2 linked regions of the Homo sapiens genome follow. The protein of the gene in region 2 purifies or fractionates together with the protein of the main gene of each other region. This does not show direct contact. Each region holds a gene or a part of one and is shown on either strand. Other genes may lie near its edges. The genes, in order: ZMYM1 and TTLL7.

The links.
Region 1: the proteins of TTLL7 (region 2) and ZMYM1 purify together in Homo sapiens (affinity purification with mass spectrometry; 2 studies listed by BioGRID and IntAct, with this or other methods). This does not show direct contact.

The regions. Positions count from the first base shown.
Region 1 is NC_000001.11:35,094,401-35,104,666, reverse strand, and holds part of ZMYM1 (zinc finger MYM-type protein 1), read right to left. Parts: intron 8,849-10,266; coding exon 8,776-8,848; intron 7,351-8,775; coding exon 7,101-7,350; exon of another isoform or gene 5,220-7,100; intron 4,847-5,219; exon of another isoform or gene 4,825-4,846; intron 373-4,824; coding exon 198-372; intron 111-197; coding exon 1-110.
Region 2 is NC_000001.11:83,994,872-84,005,008, forward strand, and holds the start of TTLL7 (tubulin polyglutamylase TTLL7), read right to left. Parts: upstream 4,262-10,137; 5' UTR 4,060-4,261; intron 1-4,059. UniProt on the Homo sapiens protein: Polyglutamylase which modifies tubulin, generating polyglutamate side chains of variable lengths on the gamma-carboxyl group of specific glutamate residues within the C-terminal tail of tubulin.

The sequences.
Region 1 (10,266 bases), about 49 Mb from region 2:
CAGTTCTCACAGCAGTTCATGATGAAGTTGTTAGCAGAGTGAAACTTTGAAAGGCAGGCATTACTGCAAAGATTATGTTTCACATTTTGGTATTTTACTTCATACTGAATCTAGGATTTAATAAAAAGATTCAGTAAAAACTCTGATATTTAAGCAGAATCATCAGAATCCCTGTAAAGGTTATAATTGGAACTTACAATAGCAGTCTTCTGGCACATGCTGCACTTGGTCAAAATGCTATTAGTACATATGGTAACAAATGGTTTTCTTTTTTCTTCATATGATGAAAGACAAGATAGGCTGCAAAAAGTTTTGCAAGAGGTAGTGTCTTCCAGCTGGACACTAATCACATCCTTTGGATTTAAAATGTCTCTAAGAATAAATAACAAGGACATCATTAAACAGTTTAAACACAATTATAACTTCTCTTTATAAATGAAATGACCTCTCAAATTAGAGTAAGAACATTAGCCTTGAAATAAGAAAACCTGAATTTGGTACCCAGTTCTGTCACATTTATACTCCCTAAATTTTAATTTTCTCATCTATACATTACAGATTATAAAGCACATCTAATAGTGCAGTTTTGTTTTTTAAGAGATAGGGTCTTGCTGTGTTGCCCAAGCTGGCCTCAAATTCCTGGGCTCAAGAGATTCTCCCACCTCAATCTCCCACATAGCTAGGATTACAGGCACATAATCCCACCATGCCTGACTTTGAAGATGTAGTTTTGGAGACTAGCCAGCCTGTATTATTAGGTGGTGCTAGTGAAAACCGAGGGATGATGAGAGATCACATATTCACATGAGCAACTCTAGAATCTATAGGACAGAGAATCTTAAAATATGGTCTTCAAATCCCTGGGGGAGTCCCCAAGATCAAAACTATTTTCATAGTAAGATGTTATTTGCTTTTTCACCGTGTTGATGTTTGCAACATCACTTTGCAACTGATGTTGCAAAGCTAATGGTAGGACCCTGCAATCCCACTCCTTGGTAAACACCCAAAAAAACTGAAAACAGGTACTCAAACAAGCACATGTACGTGCATATTCATAACAGCACTATTCACAATGGTCAAAAGATGAAAACAGCCCAAATGTTCATCAGTAAGTGAATGAATGAATAAGCACATTGTGTTACATACATACAGTGGAATATTATTCGCCTATTAACAAAAAGAATAAAGTACTGATACATGTTACAACATGGACAAACCTTGAAAATATTATGCTAAGGGAAAGAACCAGACACAAAAAGTCACTGCACTCTAGCCTGAGCAACAGAGTAATAATACCCTGTCACAAAAAGGTCATATATGATTCCATTTACATGAGATATTCAGGATAGATAAAATCTATAGATATAATGCATACTGGTGGTTGACAGGCACTGGGGGGAGAGGGAAATTAGGAGAAACTGCTTAGTGTTTAAGGTGTTTTACTTTGAAGTGATGGAAATGTTTTGGAACAAGATAGAGGGGATGGTCACACAACATTATGAATATACTAAATGCCAATGAAATGGTTAATTTCTTGGTATACAAATTTCACTTCAATGAATTTGGAAAAGAAAAAAGGCAATGGTGGGTAAAACCGTCAGAGCCTTAGCAGAAATCAAGGCAGTGGCACCAAAATGTGCTAATATTCATGTTATTCCCTGCTATACATTCACTGCCAAAAAAAATTCTTTTTAAAGTATCAGTTTCACTTAAGGAAGTACTCAATGAAACAGCAAAATATTTTAAATTATTTAAACTTCATCCTTAAGTACATTTAAAAAATATTCTGTCTTGGCCAAGTGGTAGGGTGAGAAAAAAAAATTCCGTGTGACAACACAGGACATAAGCATAAAGTACTTCTGTACACCAAAGGATGATGGTTGTCTCAAGGAAAAGCCCATATGGAAATGTTGAGTTATAAATGAATTAGCCACTTTTTTCATGGAAAACATTTTTACTTGAAAGTACTGTAAACAGTTTACTGTAAATAAAGACAAACTATTATCCAGAAGTGGGTATCTGCAGATATTTTCTTGAAAATGAAAAAAATGAGACTGTCACTTCAAGTAAAACGACAGTATTTATCGCCAACAATAAAATTTTGTCTTTCAAGTGATAATTAGAATTTTGGAAAACTTGTATCTTCCAACTTCAACTTGATCGATACCCAAAACTTAAAAACTTTTCTGAGATTAGTGGTGATTTTTAAAATACTGCATAATAAAATGAGAACATCTAGAAGATCTGCAGAACTCAGTGAACCAGTATTTTCCAAACTACAATAGCATATTACAAAAATCATTCACGGGTAAAAGATCCATTCAAAGTACAAGATAGATTAACGAATTCTAACATAACAGAGTGCAAAAAGTTCACTGATCCACATGGTACAAAAAGTTTGATCCCACATTGCAACTAGCCTTTAAGAAACTACCACTTGATTTTTGGTTGTAGTATCAAAGAACACCCACAACGATCTAAAAGGCTACTAAAACACTCCCCCCTTTTCCAATCACCTATTTATGAGGCCAGGTTTTCTTCAGACTTCAACCAAAACAACACTTTGCAATAAAGTGAAGGCAGAAACAGATACAAAAATCCAGCTAGATGTAAAGTGATTTGCAAAACTGATAAAACAATACTTATCAATTTTTAAAAATATGGGTATTTTTCATTTAAAATGTCATTTAATTTTTGATACAGTTAATATTCATAATCTACATAACTAAAGCTCTTTGGGTGTTCAATAATTTTTAAGGGTACAAGAAGTCCTGAGACCAGAAAGTTTGAGAACAGCCACTATAGAAAATATCAATACACCTAATAGCAGGCGCGGTGGCTCACACCTTTAATCTTGGGAGGCCAAGGTGGGCAGATCACTTGAGGTCAGGAGTTCGAGACTAGCCTGGCCAACCCCGTCTCTACTAAAAATATTTAAAAACATTAGTATTTTGTGATCAATGTTTTGGGAGTTATGAACACGACACTGTAAAATCACAGACCACAGAAGAATTAATTTGGGGGGTGGGCGGTTGTAAGAGGAGAGTGAGGAATGGTGTGGGAATAGACAAAAGGTAAAGATATTTGAGGCATACCTTTCAGACAGAATAAAGATACCAGCCAGATGGGAAGGGAGGAAGAAGAAACTACATCAGCGACGCATGGAAGTCTGAAAATGCTTCTTAGTTTTTATTGCTATCAGCATACTAGATTGCTGGCTTCTAAGAATCTACTAAAGCTTTATAAAAAATTGAAAAATGAATGTTGGCCAGGCACGGTGGCTCACATGTGTAATCCTGGGAGGCTGGGGCAGGCAGATACCTGAGGTCAGGAGTTGGGAGACCAGCCTGGCCAACACGGTGAAACCCCATCTCTACTAAAAATACAAAAATTAACGGGGCATGGTGATAGGCACCTGTAATCCCAGTTACTAGGGAGGCTGAGGCAGAAGAATCGCTTGAACCTGGGAGGCGGAGGTTGCAGTGAGCTGAGATCCCGCTATTGAACTCCAGCCTGGGCAAAACGGTGAGACTCCGCCTCAAAAAAAAAAAAAAAAAGAATGTTGGCTGGGTACGGTGGCTCACGCCCATAATGCCAGCACTTTGGGAGGGCAAGCCAGGAGGATCACTTGAGCCCAGGAGTTCAAGACCAGTCTGGACAACATGGTGAAATCATCTCTACAAAAAAATACAAAAACTGGACAGGCAGGGTGGCATGTGCCTGCAATCCCAGCTACTTGGGAGGGTAAAGGTGGGAGTATTGCTTAAGCCCAGGTGGTCGAGGCTGCAGTGAGCCAAGATGGTGCCACTGCACTCCAACCTGGGTGACAGACAGGGACCTTGTCTCAAAAAAAAAAAAGAAACGCCAACAAATTAGGAACAACTTTCCGATAAATAAATCAAACCTTAGTGCAGGGGCCTATTTTGGACTTTATTGATTGCATTCAGGATTTGCGGTTGGTTCCAACTGAGATACTAAAGTGAAGAAATGACACTTCTTAAATACAAAGTTCCCAAGAACAAGTCACATCTTTTTTTTTTTTTTTGAGACAGGGTCTCACTCCGTTGCCCAGGCTGGAGTGCAGTCGTACAATCTCAGCTCACTGCAACCTCCGTCTCCTGGGTTCAAGCAATTCTCCTGCCTCAGTCACTGGTGTAGCTGGGTTTACAGGCACACACCACCACGCCTGGCTAATTTTTATATTTTTAGTAGAGACAGGGATTTGTGGTGTTGGCTAGACTGGTCTCGAACTCCTGACCTCCAGTGATTCTCCTGCCTTGGCCTCCCAAAGTGCTGGGATTACAGGTGTGAACCACCTCGCTTGGCCCACAAATCGCATCTTTCTAATAAGATTTAAAATGTCATCTTCAAAGGGATCTTCCATTTGGTCCATGAAATAGAATAAAAAGTGCATTGACTCAAAACAGATATTAAATCATTCCTATAAAAGAAATCTTAAAAAGTAACTAAAAATCAGGCAGGGCGTGGTGGCTCATACCTATAATCCCAGCACTTTGGGAGGCCGAGGAAAGCAGATCACCTGAGGTCCGGAGTTCGAGACCAGCCTGGCCAACATGGCGAAACTGCATCTCTACTGAAAATAAAAAAACTAGCTGGGCACAGTGGCACACGCCTGTAATCCCAGCTACTTGGGAGGCTGAGGCAGGAGAATTGCTTGAACCCAGGAGGTGGAGGTTGCAGTAAGCCAAGATTGCACCATTGCACTCTGGCCTGGGTGACAGATTGAGACGAGACTCCGTCTCAGACAAAACAAAACAAAACAAACAAACAAACAAAACTGAAAATCAGCACGGTGGCTCACACCTGTAATCCCGGCACTTTGGGAGACCAAGGCAGGAGGATCACTTGAACTCAGGAGTTTAAGATCAGCCTGGGAAACATAGTGACTCTGTCTCTGCAAAAATAAATAAATAAGTAACTGAAAATTATTTTCAGTTCAGGATAGTTTCACTGGAAGATAAAAAAACCCCAGAAGAATAGCTAAAATTTATGTAAAAGGCTAATTAATGTGGAATTTTTAAGTTTTGAAAAAAGCAGCCTACTCTGAATCATGGATGGCCTTTTCCAGCCTAAAATTTACTACCATCTTTCTACCCACTACAATATAATATTTTTTATAAAAAAATTTTATTCTAGAGGAAGTAAAACTTATCTCAGATTTTTACTCATATTGGATTTCCATGCCTAGGAGAACTTACACACTAAATCTTTCCTGCTTCAGCCTTTTTCAATCTGTCTGGGACATCTGCTGAAGATGTGTAGTGAGTCTCTAAGGTCCCTTCCAGTTTTATGACTCTGCAGGGAGAGAAAGCAGGCTGAAGAGAGTACTATATGGCCCATAGCAAAAAAGTAAAAAGACAAAAGACTAGTATAGTATTGAAGGGTTGAAAAGCAAAAGAGAATGGTAAGTAACGTGCCATGGAATAAGACCTGAAGCAACAGATAATAACTGAAGCAGCAGCCAGAGGAGCTGAAGCAAACCCATCAAAAGGGTTTGTGAGTTTGTTAAGAGAATAATAATAGTTAACATTTATTGAGTTCTTACTACATGCTGGTATTGTTCTGACCACTTAAATATACTATTTAATGCTCATAATTCTTTTGTACATTTATCAAAAACAGATACGAATACTAAGTAACAAAGAAGTTCTCAATACTGCTCCAACTTTAGCATGTATAGGAATCACATGGCGATAAATGCAGTTCTGAATCAGCAGGTCTGGGTAAGACCTGAGAAAGTGCATTTCTTTTTTTTTCTTTTTGAGACAGTCAGTGCAGTGGCCTGATCTCAGCTTACTGCAACTTTAGCCTCCCGGGTTCAAGCAATTGTCCTGCTTCAGCCTCCCAAGTAGCTGGGATTACAGGTGCATGCCACAGTGCTCAGCTAATTTTTTTGTATTTTAGTAGAGACAGGGTTTCACTGTGTTGCCAGGCTGGTCTCAAACTCCTGAGCTCAGGCATTCTGCCCACCTCGGCCTCCCTAAGTGCTAGGATAACAGGCGTGAGCCACTGCTCCCAGCCTGAGAAAGTGCATTTCTAACAAACTCTTGGGTGATGCTGATCTAGCAACTCAGGGATGAAACTTTGAGTAGTAAAATATAACTAAACAGAAGAAGCAAAATTCAAATTATGGCAACCTGAGTCCAAAACAAGTATTATTTGAAAGAAATTTGTTATATTTAGAAGCACTGTGGTTGCCTATGGATTTTCTTGTTCTGAACAAGAACATTTAAAAATTAGCATATCCTAAGTGCTAACAACCATAATTATACAGCCTTAGGACTCTCAAAGCCAAAATGACACTGATTCTTCACACATTCTCACATAAATTTTTAAAAGATTACATAGAGACATGTAGGTTTATCTATGGCCATCAATTTTTCAAAAGAATCACTTCATTTACCATTATAAAAGAAATATAATATTATTCCACATCTTGGAAAATCCAAACTAACTGTCATAGGATTAATTTTTTAGTAGGTTGCTCCCTATACAGTTAAATAGAACAGAATGGATAAACAATAATCCCATTTACAGAGAATTTCAAATGAAAAGAGTAAAGGTGAAGAGAAACAGTACTTTTCACATTAATTTCTGCAAAAAAAAATATTTCTACAGAATCCATCAGAGGAACTAAAAGTAGAAAAAACTTCTTTTTACTAAACCAAGACGACACGTCTTCAAAAGAAATGAAAATGGCCGGGCGCAGTGACTCACACCTGTAATCCCAGCACTTTGGGAGGCCAAGGCAAGCGGATCACCTGAGGTCAGGAGTTCAAGACCAGCGTGGCCAACATGGCGAACGAAACCCCATCTCTACTAAAAAATACAAAATTAGCCGGGCGTGGTGGTGCATGGCTGTAATCCCAGCTACTTGGGAGGCTGAGGCAGGAGAATCGCTTGAACCCAGGAGGTGGAAGTTGCAGTGAGCCGAGATCGTGCCACTGCACTCCAGCCTGGGCAACAAGAGTCAAACTCAGTCTCAAAAAATAAAAAAAGAAAATGTAGAAATTACAACTAAGACTATGATCAAGAACAAGGTAGGGAAATAAAAGGGGGCATAATTTAGAATTATATACTTTGAGCAGTTTGAACAAGTTCTCTTAGAAGGAACTGGTGAACTGGCAGATGAAATGTATTCAGTGATGCATGGTATGGAGCAGAAAAGTTGAGCAGATCCTTTCCTCTGATAAGCAGTTTGCCCCTTCTGGAGAATTTTTTTACAACCAGCACAGGAAACCTGAATAGCTGTGGTTGAAACTGAAGGAAGCATTTTATTCACGCCAGATGATGCCAGAGAAAGCTGAATGCCTGCAGTCAACTGTGAAGCTATAAAAACACAAGAGGGAGAAAAAAAAATTGTTATTTACACAAAATTAAGTAGGCATTCCTTTATTTTCTTTCTTTCTTTTTTTAGAGACAGGGTCTTGTTCTGTTGCCCTCTTTTGCACTCTAGGCAGTGTAGTGATACGATCATGGCTCACTGCAGCCTTGACACCCTGTACTCAAGTGACCCTCTCACCACCTGGTGCGGTGGCTCACGCCTGTAATCCCAGCACTTTGGGAGGCCAAGGCAGGTGGATCACCTGAGGTCAGAGTTCAAGACCAGCTTGGCCAACATGGTGAAACCCCATCTCAATTAAAAATACAAAATTAGCCAGGTGTGGTGGCTAACGCCTGTAATCCCAGCATTTTGGGAGGCAAGGTGGGTGGATCACGAGTTTAAGAGATTGAGACCATCCCGGGCAATATGGTGAAACCCCGTCTCTACTATAAAAATTAGCTGGGCATGGTGACACATGCCTGTAGTCCCAGCTACTCGGGAGGCTGAGGCAGGAGAATCGCTTGAACCTGAGAGGTGGAGGCTGCAGTGAGGCGAGATCATGCACTGCCCTCCAGCCTGGCAACAGAGCGAGAGCGAGACTCCGTCTCAAAACAAACAAAATTATCTGGGTGTGGTGGCACGGGCCTGTGATCCTAGTTACTTGGGAGGCTGAGGCAGGAGCACTGCTTGAACCTGGGTGGCAGAGGTTGCAGTGAGCCAAGATCGTGCCATTGCACTCCAGCCTGGGCAACAAGAGCGGAAACTCCATCTCAGAAAAAAAAAAAAAACCTCCCGCCTCAGCCTCCCAAGTAGCTGGGACTATAGGCATGCACCACCACACCTGGTTTTTAAATTTTCTGTAGAGACAGGATCTCGCTATGTTGCCCAGGCTGGTCTCAAACTCCTGCCCTCAAGCTGATCCTTCCACCTTGGCCTCCCAAAATGTTGGGATTACAGGCATGAGGCACCATGCCCAGCCTCTTTGATTTTCTTCTCTTTTTTTTTTTTTTTAGACAGAGTCTCGCTCTGTTGCCCAGGCTGGAGTGCAGTGGTGCAATCTTGGCTCACCACAACCTCTGCCTCCCAGGTTCAAGCAAATCTCCTGCCTCAGCCTCCTGAGTAGCTGGGATTACAGGCATGCGCCACCACGCCTGGCTAATTTTGTATTTGTAGTAGAGACAGGGTTTCACTATGTTGGCCAAACTGGTCTCGAATTCCTGACCTCATGATCCGCCTGCCTCGGCCTCCCAAAGTGCTGGGATTACAGGTGTGAGCCACTGTGCACGGCCTCTCTTTCATTTTCTTACAGGTTACTTCTCCTGGACTTAAAACCCAACACAAACAAAGCAATATTCAAAGGCATTAAAAAAGAATGAATCAGCTGTCGTATTGGTCTGAATAAACATAACTAACTTAAATAATTCTATTACCACTCTCTGAAAACACAGCATTTATTTTCAGTTCATTCTCCTGAGTTCTGGACTGTTGCCTATGACAATACTCCTAAAAAGAAAAAAAAAATAATAATTAAAAATAGTGAATACAATGAATTTAAGACAACCAGTCATTCAACAGAAAATGATAAATTGTGGTCAAGTCTGGTCAATGAATTGTATAACTGAATTGAACCAAAATACACAGGTATGCACTACCCTTTTGGTGCTCTTTGGCTGACAACACTAATCACCCAATACATTATTTTCTATGGTATCCAGGTGTGACATCAAAATCTTTGTCAACAAAATCCCTCCATTCACTATCAATAGGGAGCAGACATATTGAATTACAACTATTTTCCCTACTTGTTTTTTTTTTTTTTTCTTTTTTTTTTGAGACAAGATCTCACTCTGTCACCCAGGCTGGAGTACAGTGACGCGATCTCGTCTCACTATAACCTACTTCTGGGTTCAAGTGATTCTTCTGCCTCAGCCTCCCAAGTAGCTGAGACTACAGGCACATGCCTCCATGCCCGGCTAATTTTTTAATTTTTAGTGGAGATGTTGCCCATGGTCTTGAACTCCTGGCCTCAAGTGATCTGCCTGTCTCACCCTCCCAAAATGCTGGGATTACAGGAATGAGCCACCACACCCAGCCTTCCCTGCTTGCTCTAATCATTAACAGCTAATTGTCTTCATAAAGACCTTAACCCAAGAAATTGTTAATTGGGCAGAATGATTCTTACAAAGGACAATTTTTTCAGAGCAGGAGGCAATTTCATAGCCACCATATCTAAACTTGATCTATGCCTGAATGTCCATGGCATGAAGAAGCAATAGATAGTTCCTAGATGAGTAACATTCCCCAGTGTTAACAACTCAATGGTAAGCATACCCTTATTTAATATTAATCTACTTTAGGCTATTTCTAAATAGAATACTACAAATAAATTACCCTTTTTAGTGATTTTTTTCTTTCATTAGAACTTTCAGCTGGTTCACAGTTCATATACAAACATTCCTTTTTTTTGTTTTAAGAGACAGGGTCTCGCTTCGTTACCCAGGCTGGAGTGCAATGGCACAATCATAGCTCATTGCTTCCTTGAATTCCTGGGCTCAAGCGATCCTCCTGTTGTAGCCTCTGAAGTAGCTGAGACTACAGGCGTGCACCACTATGCCTGGCTAATTTTTGTATTTTTTATAGAGACAAGGTCTTGTCATCCAGTTGGTCTCAAACTCTTGGGCTCAGGTGATCCTCCCACCTTGGCCTCCCAAAGTTCTGGGATTACAGGTGTGAGCCACTGTGCCTGGCCATATATACAAACATTCTAAGGAATGTTTTCCCTACTTAAACAATACTCACAGTTCAAGTCAGTTCATCCTTTATAGGTTCTTTAGTGATATGTCTAAAAAAATTTTTTTTAATTTACATAAATTAATTTAGATTAAAAAATGTAATTTGTATTAAGTTAAGAAAAACAAAAA
Region 2 (10,137 bases):
TATAAGAGGATAGAATAAACTGAAATTTGAAGGAGATAGATATGTGTGTTGTGGGTGAGGGAATGCAGAGGTTTACAGCTGAAGTCCACAAATACAACACTGGAACCAGAAAGTAGTCTATCACATATTCTCCTTCTCTGACTATCAACTCTTACTCACTCTCACCAAGCCTGTTCTCCAACTTAGTATCTTCTCTCCTCAGTAACACCAACTGCCTGCCTTTCTCCCAGTCTCCATGATTTAATCAGTCTTTAGTCTAATCAAAAGAAGTTGCTTGAAAGACTATAATCTGAGGAGCCACAGACAAGATTGGGTGTTATGAATTATTAATATGCAAATATTCTATAATCAACATGTAAGTATTCCAAATTGAACACTGGGAATTGATACAGTTTGGATATGGGTCCCTATCCAAATCTCATGTTGAATTTTATTCCCCAGTGTTGGAGGTGGGGGTGGGAAATATTTGAATCCTGGGGACATATCCATCATGAATGGCTTAATGCATCCCTTTGGCGGTAAGTGAGCGCTCACTCTGAGTTCTCACAAGATCTGGTCACTTAAAGTGTGTGGCACCACCCCCTCACTCTCTCTCTTGCTCCTGCTTTCTGCTATGTGACGTGCCTGCTCCCCCTTCCCCTTCAACATGATTGGACGCTTCCTAAGGCCTCCCCAGAAGCAGATGCTGCCATGCTTCCAGTACAGCCTGCAGAACTGTGAGCCAATTACACCTCTTTTCTTATAAATTACCTAGTTTCAGGTATTTATTTATAGCAATGCAAGAATGGCCTAATATAAGAACTCAGTAGTTTCAAAACTTGCTTAAAATAGTGCAACTTCAAGACCTCATACCCTTTAACCCAGAAATTTTATTTCTGAGACTCTATGCAAAGGAACTAATATTCAAAATACAAAAAAAAGCATACGCACAAAGATGTTCATCACAGTGCTATTATTATCATCAATAATTGTTTATTATGATGTCATCAATAGTGACAATGAGGAACAATTAGGCAATGATAATACATCTACCAAATGGAAAATTATGTAGTCATTTTTAAGCCTGCTATTAGGCATTTTAAACCTAGTATTAAGCCAGTTGTAATTAAATGAAAACTAAAGTTATAGAATTTTAAATTTAAAAATAATATAAAAGTAATATAGATACCATAATTAAAACTACGCATGAAAAAAGTGGAAAGAAACATGTCAAAAATGAATAGTGATTGTCTTTAGTTGGTCAAATTATGAGGGTGTTTTTTTCCTTTTTATATTCTTAAACTTTCCAAATTGTTCATAATTATCTAATGGGGGCCGGAGCTAAAAGGCAAATTCCTTTGGAAGAGGAAAAATTGTACTTGCACAGAAAACTTTTTCTCAGTTTAGTTGACAATCCTTTTAGTACCCAGGAAACAGACCATTTCCTGGAAGGGGACTCGGGGCAACAGATATGGAGAATGTAAGAAAGAGAAATGATTAACAGATCAGAAACAGATCTCACTGTCTGACATTCAAGTTTCTTCATGATCTTTCACCATGTATCCAAACAGTAGATGAGCACTTCTTAGCTGAACCTTTATGTGGCTTTCTCTTTGCCTATCAGAATCCTTCCAGTCTCTGAGACTGATTTAATTCACTTCAACCCATGAAGACTTTCCTGATCCTCTGATCATCCAAGGCTCTACTATTTCTCTTTTCTCTTAAGGTACCGCTATAGCAGTAGGTCTGCACCACCCTTTTCTGGTATTAAGCCAATTCTAAGTTATTTGTTAATTACTCACGTGTAAGTAAAATTTCCCCTGCTAGACTTTAAGTTCCTTGAAGTGGGGAATTTAGATGGTTTGCAGACTGTAGTCATTGGACAGAGGAGAGAGAGCAGTTCTAAAGCCAAGTTGGTATTATATTCATACTCTCAGTGATGTCATCTAAGTAAAATGTGCTGTCTCTGTTTTAAAATGTTGCTGCTGACCATCCATCACCAGGACATGCACTTTCCTTTTTTTTTTTTTAACAGCAGTGGTATTGTATTTTTGCTTATTCATTCATGCCAGTTCTGCTGTCCCCCTTAGGATTAAACAGATTGGATTACAAGATGCCTTGCCAAGGTTCAGGATATAGGTTATAGCCATGTAAAGAACAAAATGAAATGACTTTTAGGAATCAAACTCAAGACTCTTCACAAGACCCCACTTCTCATACTCTTGTTTGAACAACAAATATAAATTTGTGCCTCCATTTTATGTCCTTATTTAGGCAGTGGACTTTATCAATACCCCCGTTAACTTGAAAAAGAATTCTCCAATGCAAATGGTTCAATACTTTAGAAATGACATACTAAGATGACTCTGTTCCTGCCTACCATCAATACTATGTGAGTATTTAGAGATAATGAGCATCTGTACTATAGCAACCTGCCTCTTGAGACATAAACAAGAGATGCATTTCTTAAGAAAAAATCTGTAAGTCGCTAATGAAAGCAAGTCAAAGGACCCATCAACGGGCGAAGAAAGACCTAGCATCCATTATTTTTACAGAAGGAGCATAGAAGGTCAATATAATTGTTGACTCTTAACGGCAGGGTAACAACAAACTAATTCAGTTTCCCACTATATAAGAACTACATTTTACTACAACACTCATATTTCTAAACTGACTAAGAGTCAAGGCTTGTCCAAATTCCATGGCTTACTGAGTGGTCTTGAACCTTCTCTGAATTTTGTTCCTTAGTCTGTAAAATGGAGTTATCACCTGTTATGCAATATCACAGAGTTGTAATGAATCAAGTAACATTATCTTAGTATGGGTTCACCTGTCACCCTATTGTGGGGTGCAGTTCAGTCGCACACCTCATGAACTAAGTAACTATTATTACTGTAAATGTCTCCCTAACATTTAAGACAGAAAAAGATTTCCAGAGTTCTTCTTACGTTTTTAATCGACTTCTCCAACACTTGAGCATCCACCAAATATCACTGCCAAAAATGTGCTGAACATCTCCTGTTATGACCTCACTCTCCTATGTAGTGTTGTTCACATATTTTTTGCCATAAGCTTTCTAAGAAAATAGATTATTTTTCACATGATTCAAAGCATCTTTCTTTCATATTGAAGGAGCAATAATTCCTTATGCAGAAAGTTTACAGGTTGTTGTTGCTGTTGTTTGAGATTACTCCTCAATTAATTAATTCTATGTTTAATATCTAATAGAGCATATATATGTACACTTGGACACACTCCATTAATACAGTGGAAAATCCATGGACTATAGAGTCAGGAAAACCTATATTCGAATTCCTGTTCTGTGACCTTGAGAATGTAATTTAACTTCCCTGCTCCTCAGTTTCCACATTTGGTTCTGGATTATGATGATTTAATAAAATACGATATATAAAAGTAAGTGCCTAGGCTATGAAGGTATTATTTCCTACCTCTCCTAAATCTTTTCTTTCTATGCCAGGATCAATCAAACCCACCCAGAATACAAGGCAACTTTCATAGGGTATCTTTTACATCAGTCGAGGGAACGCTGCGATGTGATATAAGTGGATGATGGCATGAGTCAGGCATCCAACAGAGCAAGATGTGGAGAAAGTGAGAGGTACCTACAAGGGCCCTAGACTTCACTCGCATGTGCGAAAAGGGCATTTTGATACCCTTTCAAGAATGCCCCGCATACTCGCGGAGGCTTATACCACGATGTGGGAAAACGACGGAATTACAGAATAAACCAGCAGGGAGCCTCCTCGTTCACCCAACCCGACCCCGCCCGCCCGAGTCTCCCATCTGGAGCCTAAAAACTGAGCTGAGATCACAGCAACTGACCCCGTCCCCTCCGCCCTCTCCCTCCCCCATTCTGCCCAAACCTCTCAGGGCACGAATGGTGCTGAATCATTTGCACGAACGCAGCAGCTCCCCGTTCCGCGGCTCCCAGCGGGGACGGTGTCCCCAGAGCAGTGACAGTCCGGGGATGGGGGCCCGGAAAGAGGGCCAGGGCGGAGCCTTTGGGGACGTGGGGACATGGAAGGGGGTCGGGGGAGGATGGCGGCAGCAGGTACTCACCCGGGTGAGGAAAGCCCAGCCCGGGTCCTCGCGTCCCCGCTGCAAGCGGTCCCCCAGGTGCTCCCGCGCCTCGCAGCTTCCCCGTGGGCGGCCGCCCCGACTCGGCAGCCTGCACTGGTGGTCCGGTGCTCTCCTCCGCCCGCCCACCGCCCGTGGCAGCCACGGCTCGGGACTCCGGTGCTCGACGCGGAGTGCCTGGAACAGCTGTCGCTGCCCAAGCGGGTGGCGGCTACCGACGGGCCAGACCATTCGCCTGCTGCGGCCGGGGGTGCACGACGTGCCGAGAGGCGCGGGCGCCGGGGGCGGCGACGGTTGGGAGGAACAAAGGACTCGGGGAATCCTCTGCCCCCTCGGAGTCAGGAGGTCCTGGGGACAGGAGGGATCAACGGAGGGGCCGCTGCCTCTTCTGGGGGTTTACTGAAGACACTGCTCGAGCTTTCCCGGGCCACACACACCCCCCCCCCGTTTGCCTTGGTCCCGCTCGGGGCTCCTTTAGAACGCGGCAAACAGAGGACTTAGCAACGCGAGCGCCTGGGCGGCGCCCCTCCTCAGAGATGCGAGAGGCGCTGGCCTGAGCGCCTCCGGCCACCTCCTTCTACCTCCGGGCCCTAGGCGCCCGATCCACCTGCCTATCTGACCACAGACATCTTCCCACAAAACAGTGGAGCTTTTTGAATCTTTGAAGAGAGTCTTCAGATCTTTTATCTAAGCATCTTTGTGAAGCAAAGAATAAACGGGTATCTGAGGCCAGCTCGAAAGTTAGGAAATAAAATCAGGTGGGGCCCCATCCCGTAGATGCTGAGGGACAGCTCTGACCTAGAGTTCCTGCTAAGCAAATGTTGAACCACGGCAGTTGTAAAAAAATGTAGATTTAGGAAGCCATTTCGAGATAAAGATTTACAGAAGATTGTTGCAGAAATTAAAGAATATTCGAGGTTCATTGTTCACCATTTTAGAGTTGCGTGTCTTGAAAACGGGAAGGCAATCATGTCTTCTCATAAAATGAATTGTATAGAACTGGAAGAAGTCCTAACACATGAATTCCTTAGACTTTTGTGGTCCCTGCTTCTGTCACGCTGGGTTCACACAGGTTCATTTCAGAGCATGGTGAAGATCAGGACAAGTGTACAGTTTTCCCTGTAGAAAAAAAGAAAAGATAGAACAGAATTGGCAACTACCTATAAAATGTGATTAAAGGTAGGAAAAAAAAAGGCCCTCCAAGTGCATCCCAAAAAATATAAAATTTCACAATTTAAAGTTTTGTCCTTCGTTGAGTAAATCAACATAAATTCAGCACTTTCTATAGACCACTGTGCTGAGAATAGTCTCATTTTCATTTCTTCATTTATTCTTCTAAAAACTCCTGTGAGATTGGTAACCTGCAATAGACCTCCATACAGCCTTGCCAGCATTGGGAACTGATCTGGTCAGTGAGGGCATCTTCTCATAAAGGACACTGGTGAGAAACTGGGCTCAGGGTTTGTCGTGCTGGGTTAGTCTCACGATCATAAGCGGCAGAGCAGACATTGCCACCTGGAGTTTTTGACTTGTTCCTTTCCCCTAGAATGCCTCTGAGAACGATATACATTAAACCGTGTCACATCTGTGATTGCAACTTGAATGTGAGTCTGTTTATCCTTCCTTTGTGAGAAGGGGTTTTAGAATGGAGAGGGGGCAGTTAGGTGTCCAGGGTAGGCATCACCCTGAGGCAAGAAGAGTGATCAGAAAGAAGAAGCTGGACTTCACCCAGAACTAGCCGAACATCAGCGTCACAATACACTGTCAAGGTCACATGAGGTTGAAGAGGAATTCTCCACTGCCTTCTTGTTAATCATCTTTACATCATTATTTTCACTGTATTACACTTTACACTATGCATGCACTATTACTACATTACATGTTATCATTCTTCCATTCCTAGGAAGGGGCAAGAATTTTTCAATAAACCTATTATCATGGGTCCTCATATACCTTATCAAAAAAAATGTTAAGTAACAGAGGTATTAGCAACACTTAACGTCACCTCAAGAAAGCTTTTTGAGAAATCAGGAATAAAATTAAATTGTTTCTGTATGATATGATATTGTTACTATGTTAATGGTTGTTGTAAAGATTCACACGTCAGCAGCAGCAAAACAGAAATCCCCAAAGTTGCATGTTGCCGAGGAGCAGGAGCATTGGGTCCCCAGTGGCCAGACTGGCCTCAGGCTCAGAAATGTGTGATTCTTCTCTCCATGTGCAGTTGTTTCACTTTCAAAGGCAACAACAGGAACAGAACACATGTAGATGAGGCGTCTTCTGAGTTAGTGCTTTATGTCAGATGTTAGATGATAGGGATATAGAAAGGAATTTAGAGCCTTATGATTTGTGGTGCGGATGGGCCAGTGACATCTGCAGCAATCTGTTTGTATAAGTTGACACTCTTGGAACATATGTTTCTGAATGAAGAAAGGGGAATTTTTGTGCTGGCAGCCTTGGGAAATTGTCAAAAGAAGTGGAAGGAATGGTGTGATGCCTGCATTCCCTGCTTTCCTCAGAGTCCTCAAATGGTTTTGAGCCTGCTGTGTAAAGAACTTAGGGCCAGAAGCTAAATAATCATCTTCCCCACAAATGACTTTGTGAAATTTAAGTTCTAAGAAGTACTACTTTAGGCCTGGTGACAAATGACAGCATGGAGCTGGCAAGAGAGCCATTCTCTCACCCAACCTGAAATAGACCTCCATACAGCCTTGCCAGCGATAGGAACTGATCTGCCCAGTGAGGGTATATTCTCATAAAGAACACTGGTGGCCGATACAAGGTCAAGGTAACTTAAGTAGGAGCCCAGAGCAGTAAAGCAGGAGTGGTATTATTCCTGAGCACCTGAAAGACACTGCTGAGGATTTCTTGCTGCAAATGATGGAGACTAGGGAGGCACTGCAGGGTCAAGGGAATCATTATTAAACTCAAGATGATTGTTAAACCTTATTTAGGCACCGATATTAACATGAACTCATTTGTATTCACAAACTAGCATGATCTGGGAACATTCCAATATTACTTTTTAAATGATACTAATAAGAAGAGAGCTAGAGAGAAAGAGAATACTTAATGCCTTTGATAAAACTGCATTGTGAGCCACAAAATGTTAAATCTTGATGCAAGATATTCCAGTACCTGCTATGTGTTGGTCTCTTACCAAAGCATGTGGTGACATTAACCTCTCAACTTATTCTTGCTGAAGAGAGTGCTTAATTGTGTTGTTTCTCTTTGCGTTTAGCTAACACTTATTAAATCATTAGTGTTTGAGTAACTAGTATTATGTGAAGTAAGTACTATTATCACTCCCATTTTATAAATGAAGAAACTGAGAATTACAAGGGTGTATTAATTTGTCAAAGGTAGCACAATTGGAAAGAGACAAAGCTGGATTTCAAACACTAACCAATACATGACGTGAATATCAGCATACTTTTACTGTCTCCTGCTATAGAGAACATGTACATTGCATGTTTCTCTGCAGCAGAATCTATTTTTTATTTATTATTAAAAACCTGTTTTCAACTCTCATTTCTAAGAGGAAATGAGTCATTTCCCACAGAAGATTTAAACATTGGATACCCTTTTCTAGGTTTCTGTGCTCAGAAAAGAGACCCTGAATTTAAGAATAAGAAGTGAACCTTGTAACATAAACTTGACCAGTGATGCCTAAAATTCTTGCTGCAAAATTATGATTGCAGGAACTCCTGCATGAGACTCTGGAAACTAGATTCCTATGAAGTTCTGTAGGTGGTTCTAATGTACAGCCAAGTTTGACCAGACCATACTGGACAAAAACAATATGGGGCCTACAAAAAATAACATTCAGGCTTCTAGACTTAACCCCTTAATCCCACCTTTTATTAAGAAGGAAATAAGAGGCTGTTATTTAAAACCTACATTATGTAATTTTACATTTATCATATAAAATGTATTTATTAAAGGGTTTAGAATTTTTCTCAGTGTTGTTTTTGTCATTCTCAACAAATCTTCAAAAAGCCCCAAATTTAAAATGATACTCATTCAAAATTACTTTTATATATAGATATTGGACTTTAAGCCCTTTTTAATTATTATACGGCATTTTATATAAGACAAAAAGTCATATTGCATTAGACTTTTGTTTTAATTTTTGGAGAATTTACATGACAGTAAGTCATTTCATCCAAGAAGATAATAAGCTTTTCTAGTTTATGTTTTTTCATTTCCCAATCATATTTTTATAATTTTGCTTATATATGTTCTGTAACTTTCTTACCAAAGTTGTACCAAATTTTTTATAGCACTTGTATTCTGAATGAAATGTTCTTTCCATTTCCTTTTGTAGGGTCTTCTACCAGAACAGAGAGATGATGCTTTCTGTAATTTATTTTGTATTCATTCAGTGCACCAAATTATCTTATTACTTGTTTTTTCATGAGTCCCTTGGATTTTCCAAGAAAACAGGCATATCAGCAATATCAAGAACTTTGTTTCTGGCTGGGCACAATGGCTTATGCCAGTAATCCCAACACTTCGGAAGGCCAGCGTGAAAGGAACACTTGACCCCAGGAATTTGAGACCAGCCTGGGCAACATAAGGAGATCTGTCTCTATAAAAAATAAGAAATTAGCTGTGCGTGGTGGCACCAGCCTACAGTCCCAGCTACTCAGGAGGCCAATGTGGGAAGATCCCTTAGTCCAGGAGTTCAAGGCTGCAGTGAGCCTTGATCACGCCACTGGCTCCACTCCGAGCAACAGAGTGAGACTGTTTATAAAATATATAAAAATGTATATTTGTTATAATTTATACCAGTTATTTTATTTATATTTGTTAGAATCACTAATGTAAGTGATTGTGGTGATGCCTGATTCCAGATTTTAAGTGAAAGATTTAATTTTTGTGATTTGGGATGATGTTCGCTATTGGGCTTTCCTTTATTATAAAAGAAATTTTTTCTGATTCTATTTTGCTTAAAGTCACTTGACTTTTATCTGATGCCTTTCCACAACTTATTGATAATGGTTGGGCTTTTTCCCTTTAATTTTTAATGTAATCAATATGTAGCTAGACTTCCTGATATTGAACCGCCTTTTCATTCCTCTAATAAAGCCTATTTTTTCACACCATGTTATTCACGTGATTCATTCCTCTATTGTATTCTCTGTTATTTAAACATTTGGCAGCTATATTCAGAAATGAAATCAGCCTGTACTTTTAATTGTTGTTTTACTCCTTCTTAGGCTTTGGTACTCAAGTTAGTCTGGCTTCATGAAATTAACTGGGGAACTTTCCATTTTTTTCTAAGACTTACAATAGTTTAAATAATATTGGAATTATCCGTTCTTTAATAGTTAGATTAAAAATTCAGCTGTGAATTCATCTGCCTGTGGCCTTCTTCAATAGCAGATCATTAATCACTTCTCCAATCTCTTCTGTAATAATTGGTCTATTCAAGTTTTTCACTTCTTCTGTGTCAGTTGTGATCATGTATATTTTCCTAGGAAAGTATTCACTTCTTCTAGGTTTTATTTTCCTAATGTGTTGCTAGGATCATCTTTAGTATTTACTTAGAATTCTTTTAATCTCTTTCCTACTTTCACACAATTGATCATGTCTAATTATGATCTTATTATCTTTTCCTTAGCAGGTTCACATGATGTTTATTTTATTTGTCTTTTTAAAGAAGCAATCTTTGAATTTATCATTCTTTTCTACCATTTTATCTATTTTAATAATTTCACTGTTGATACCTCTTCAGAGTTTCTTTTGTTTTCTTTTTGCTATTGTTGTTGTTCTTACATGGACTCATTACTTACTTAATGCCTTTGTACTCACCTTTCTGCTTCCATAATTAAAGGCAACACATTTTCCTCTGAGTTCAGTTTTTGCTGTGTCCCATTATTTTTAGAGTGTTTGATTTGTCAATGTTTCTGGACATTTCTATATTATTTAATTTCCTCTGTCATACAAGGTTTGTCTTATTATGTGCTTCTTTATTTCCAATTTATTTTACTGAACTGTGGTGAGAGGATGTAACCTGTAAGCTTTCTACTTCTTTGAATTTGGTTTTCCTTTCAG